2 separate regions of the Homo sapiens genome follow, and region 2 is linked to region 1. The links come from fine-mapping of genetic effects on gene expression. Tissue or cell type: pancreas. Region 1 holds a variant in brackets; the other region holds the start of a gene. All regions are shown on one strand. Distances are between the middles of the regions.

What was found. PIP is the estimated chance that this variant, and not a neighbour inherited with it, causes the effect.
Region 2: it holds the start of HEG1, and the variant in region 1 is fine-mapped to the expression of HEG1 in pancreas (GTEx, PIP 0.94).

The regions. Positions count from the first base shown.
Region 1 is chr3:125,001,893-125,004,574 of GRCh38, forward strand. It overlaps HEG1 (heart development protein with EGF like domains 1), which reads right to left. Exons shown (of 17, transcript NM_020733.2): 10 at 365-423; 11 at 1-120. Among named protein-coding and RNA genes, the nearest start is that of HEG1, 53 kb to the right of the region's middle. RefSeq lists an enhancer at 1-638. The variant C/T (reference allele first, on the strand shown) is at 1,285.
Region 2 is chr3:125,054,507-125,057,188 of GRCh38, forward strand. HEG1 (heart development protein with EGF like domains 1) reads right to left here and starts at 1,491. Exons shown (of 17, transcript NM_020733.2): 1 at 1,069-1,491. The coding sequence starts at 1,384. RefSeq lists silencers at 985-1,144, 1,205-1,294, 1,375-1,754 and an enhancer at 2,005-2,054.

The DNA of each region.
Region 1 (2,682 bases):
TCAGCAGAGGACTTGCAGGAGTTGACACATTTCTGCATCCTATCAGCCAGGTCAAATAGCGTCACATTGGAGGCCAGGGAAAAGGTTGTTTGCAGTGAGATCACCACCGCGTTGGACTCCCTATAGGCAAAGTTTGTGGGTTTTTAACAGCCCTGAAATGACACGTGGGTCCCAAGGCTTTTGGAAATGAATGTCATCGCCATTCACCAGTGACGGGATGGGAGAGCATGAAGGTCAGTGACCTTGGCCCTGGATTGCCCCATGGCTGGGTGAAAACAGCCCGGTTTTGTTGCTATCACCCATGTTAGAACAGCCTCCCCTTTGTACAGACTAGTTCACAAGCAAATATAATTCTGTTACTTACCTAGAGGCGTGAACTGTAGATCGGATGTAACTAGGTAACGCTGAAAAACACATATTTAACTGAAAGGAAGAACAAGCCTGTCGTTAACAGTGAGTTAGACAAAAGCCTTGGACCTAGAACCAGTTTCCTATTTTCAGGATAAAACAGGCATTTTCCAGCCATCAAGTTATCAGCACGCGGCTTTGCACAGAAGTGGTGTCCTTTTTTTGTTCCCCTCTTAAATGCCTTTCTGTTGTTCCATGAGTACAAAGAGAAAGAGGCAGAGAGTAAATCAGTGGGGAAAATCTTGGCAGGAAATGATGTTCAGAATAGCACCCTTGGATGCAAAACATCTTCAAAGAAGCAGCTCTCTTTTAAGGCCCAGGGTTTCAAACAACTCAGAGGCAACTGTTTATTTGGACTCTGCATAGTGAACGAGCTGCACTGGAAAGGCTCCTTTCAGCTACTCTAGGTCTGACAGGCCCTACATAGACGCCTCATAATCTACAATGAGTTGACCTAACTCAAAGACAGGTCTTCTTCAAAAAGGCTCTCCGTGAGAAATTACATTATGTGGGTCAAGAGCCCCTTTGTTGAGAGCAAATTAAGAGCTACTCTCCCTATGTTTGCCTTGTGCCCTTGGAGACGGCAGAAAATCCCTCTACAGCATGAAATATCAGGCCTGCTTCCCTGCTACCCTGCACAATAGGAGCTATCGAGACTCCTTTCCCGGAGTGGAGGGTCTCAGTACTGGGCCCAGTGCAGATCCACCTGTGTTCAAGGCCCATGTATCAGATACATGCCACTCTGCAGAAGATGGAGGCAAACATGGGACATTATCAAACCCTTTCTATGACATCAGTGTATAGCCTAATAGCAATGATTTATTATTGTTGTTTTATTATTAACCTGTTTTTCCAGGTTTGGTAAACAGAACACCT[C/T]GGGAAAGAACATTTGAGTGGCTTCCTCAGCCAATGATGGATTAATCTTCACTCTTTCTTGGGGACAGGTATGTTACATCACCAGTAAATTATACATTGATACTGGGCAAAAAATAGCAAGTCAAATAAGTCACTGAGCGCCACGTAATGCAAAGGACTGCACTTCTGCAAAGGGTTCTAAATCCCTGTATTATCTTAGCAGGAGATATCCACCTGCAGCACGACCAACAGGCAGCTGTGGCGAAGGGACAAGTATAGGATTAGTAGACATAAAATTCTGCTGTGTAGTAAAGAATTTAACCTTGGCCCCAGGGAAGTCAGGCCTTTGCTCTTGGATCCTGGGAGGCCATCTCTAAGCCCTTGGAATGTGCTGTCTAATAAAAACTTCTTTGTTTACCTGGGGGTGCTGGGCCATGCCAGAGAGTCCAACAATGTGATTTATGGTGGGGTTGGGTAACATGGTATCAGCTCAACCTCTAGAGGGGCTGGAGATTGAGGTCAGCCACATGACAAAGCCCCAGTCAAGGCTCTGGAGAGCTTCCGTGGTTGGCAGTACTCCCTGCATACTGGACACACTGTTGCCAGGAGGAGTTAACACTGTGCATGACTCCTCAGCGGGACGACAGCTGGAAGCTCTGCCTTTGGAACTCTCCCGGACTCTCTGCCCCGTGCATCTCTTTCCTTGGCTGATTTTAAGCTGTTGACTTTCACTGTAATAAACCGTAGCTGTTAATATAATCGCTTTTAGTAAGCTCTGTGACTCCTCTAGTGAATTATTGAAACTGAGGGCGATCTTGGGGATGCCTGAACTTGAAATTGGTATCAGTAGTGATGGTGGTTTAGTGGACTGTTCCCCAACTTTGCACCTGCTCTGCGTGGACTCAGGCAATGTCATTCACTTCCAGACCTCCCGGGGTTCTATCTGCAGATGTGCTGGCAATGCCTGTTACAGGAGTGCGCCATCTGACATCGTCCCTATCATGAAGTGAATGCTCAGGAGATAGAGAAATAGAACTAGATCCGTATTTTACACAGATAAAGTCCAAAGTCCTGTAGAAATGTATAATTCCTAGCTAATATACTAACTCTTATCCACAAAGAACAAGTAACATTGAGATTGGAAATCAATTCATCTCTAAAGTTTTTTAATGGCAAATTTCAATTTTCTGAACCTAGAGTTTAAGAACTCACTGTATAGATGAGTCAAATCTCTGACTCAGATAGCAGTTGAGAAGCAAAGTTTATTATATGAGCTTCATTTTCCTGTCTTCTTTCTTCCTCTCCATTTTCCTTTTTAGTTGTTTCTGTTTTGGGGGGTTTCTTTTGTTTTTGAGACAGGGTCTCACTCTGTCACCCAGGCTGGAGTGCAGTTGTTCGATCACGGCTCACCACAGCCTC
Region 2 (2,682 bases), 53 kb after region 1:
AGATGAGAAACTTAAATGAATTGTCAATTATGCAGACAAAAAACTCAACTTTCAGGGAAACTCCAAATCAATGTCCAGTGTTGCAAGCAACCCAGCTTATTTGAATAGCCCGGACAGAGCATATGCCCTGTGTCACTCACAGGAAGGCAAAGGCTAACACCACCACGTTGCTGACTTTGTTCAAAGCACTTTCCATTTATTTTTACTTTCATTTTGTCACATCATCACTAGGAGGCTAGAAGGAACAGGGATCATCACTTTCATTTCACAGATGGAGAAAGTGAGCGCAAAGAGACAGCAGTCCCAAGGTCATAATGGTATTATGGTTAGAATTCCACTCAGTATGTGGCATATTTTTCCAGATCATAAGAAAGAACTGGACACAAAGGTAGCAGGGAGAAGAGGTCAGTTCCTTCTCTCTGCGTGGGACAGGCGGTGGCTACCACGGAGCAACAGTTCATTGGGAAAGGAAAGGGGAGGGAGGAGGCTCAGGGATGGTCCTGTATCAGCCTGTGCCTTGCAGGGGTTCAACCATGCAACCCCAACCGCGTTCCTTTGCTTTTAAGTCGAACCAGTAGAGCGTTTTGTTTCAAACTACGTACATCCTTTGTCCTTTACAATATCCCGTCCTAGAACCCCTTAAAAATCAGTTATTTAGATGAGAAAGTCGAGCCCTGTACCTGGAGAGGCCAGTTCTGTATAGCGGAAAAAATGAAACTGGGGACCGGCTGGCCAGATATCGGAGGTGGGAGAGATGCTTTGCAGTCTTTTTCCCTTTCCTTTCCATTTTTTTTAAAGTGGGGTGGAAGAGATACAGGGTACCCCATAGGAAATAAGTTTTCTTCCAAAGGGTTGGAGGAGAACGGGATAGTCACACCCCTCAGTCCAGCCAACTGCGAAAGCGTCCCTCCCTACCCGCCGACCCTCAGGGTCCCGCACACGCCGGGCGAGGAGCCCCCACCCTGGGTCGCGCCGCGCGGAGGGGCCTACGGCTGGGGATGCAGCCCGGGGCGCGCCCACGCCCCCAGCACAGACTGGCCAGGCGCCAGGTTCCCGGCTCTCACTCACCCGCGCTCCCGCCTCTGGGGGCCCGGCCGGAGGGTCCCCGCTGTGTCGCGGCGCCTGGCTCAGGGGCCCTGTAGCTGGGGCCGGGGGTCGCGGGCCCGCGGCGCTCCCGGGGCGGCGTGGGCGGCGGCTCGCGCTCCGGGCGGCGCTCCAGCTGCAGCTCCAGCCCCGCTCCCGCGAGGGGCGCCAGGCTCAGCGCGCGGCGAGCCGGGGAAGGCGGCGGGTCCCGCGTCCCGGGGGCCGCCGGCGGCAGCAGCAGCAGCGGCAGCAACAGCAGCAGGAGCGGCGGCGGCCACCGCGAGGCGCGCGGCGAGGCCATGGTGACGGCGCCCGCCCGCGCTCACATGCCCGGCGCGCGGGGCGAGGGCAGCGGGCAGCGGGCAGCGGGCGGCGGGGGCCGCGCGGGGCCGGGGAAGTGAGCGGAGTGAGGCTGCGAGCGCGCTCCCCGCCTCAAAAGTTATCGGGAGCCGCGGGAGGGCTGCCGGGGGCCGGGCTGGCTGGGCGGAGGCGGCCCGCGGCGCCGCTACATGCTAATTAGCCCGGGCGGGTCGCTGGCTGGCGGGCGGCTCCTCCTCAGTTGACATCACCGGCCCCGCGCGGCGGGCCCGGAGGCGGGGAGAGGGCAGGAAGGGGGCTGGGGCCGGGCGCCTGGAGAGCGGCCCGGCCCGGGACAGCGGGATGAGGTCAGCGGAGCCACGGTGCTGCAACTTTTGTCACACACATGCTCCAGAGTCTTCTGAATCGGGCACCACCTACCCAACTCCTTAAACGCACAAGAAGTAGGTGAAAAGCAGGTCCTGGGTAATGTGATTAGCACCAGACTAGATTATCCCAAGTGCTTTGATAGGAGAGAGAAAGGGAACGGTCCCCTGGTACCCAGCCCGCGCTGTCACCGCCGTTATTGATTTGAAGTGTCCCCACTCCCACCCCCACCTCCCCTTCTTCAGGCCCCAGGGCTGGTGATGAGCTCGTGTTTGCCAAACCTAACACCTCACCCTCCGGCCAACGCGAGAATCCGAGTATCCCCCACGCCCTCTCAAGCTTGGATGCCGTTCCCATCCGACCACTGCCTTTGGCTCACACCAGAGTTCTGCAGAGATGTCACCGCGAGGACACCCAAACAGGCTGCAGGGAAAAGAAAACTGTGAATTCAGGCAGGCTAGGGCAAACTCATCATCAGGAAAAGAACTGCAGATCGCAAATTAAACCAAATGATGCCCAGAGAACACAGAATTTTAAATGGAAACCTATGGGGAAAGATTCAAAGATTTCATGTAAACAAATTTTCTTGGTCAATAAAGTTCCATTTGTTTCCATAACCTCTCCCTCCCCAGTAAATGAATAATAAACTGTCTAAAGTTTAGGACTGTAAGCCACCTCATTAAGTGAAGAAAGAGGGGCTCAAATGGGAAAATAACTTGCTCAAGATTCTGAAGGTAGACCCGAAGACGAAATGATTGATCTGTGAATGACCATGTGATATTATTAATTCTGGTCTCCTAATTCAGAGTTTGCAATAATTCGCAAACGGAAACAAATAGTATTGCAACAGAAACAAATGTTGCAGCTCCTTGGGGTTCTTGCGAGTTCTGTTGGGGGCCCCTGTCTGACAACCAA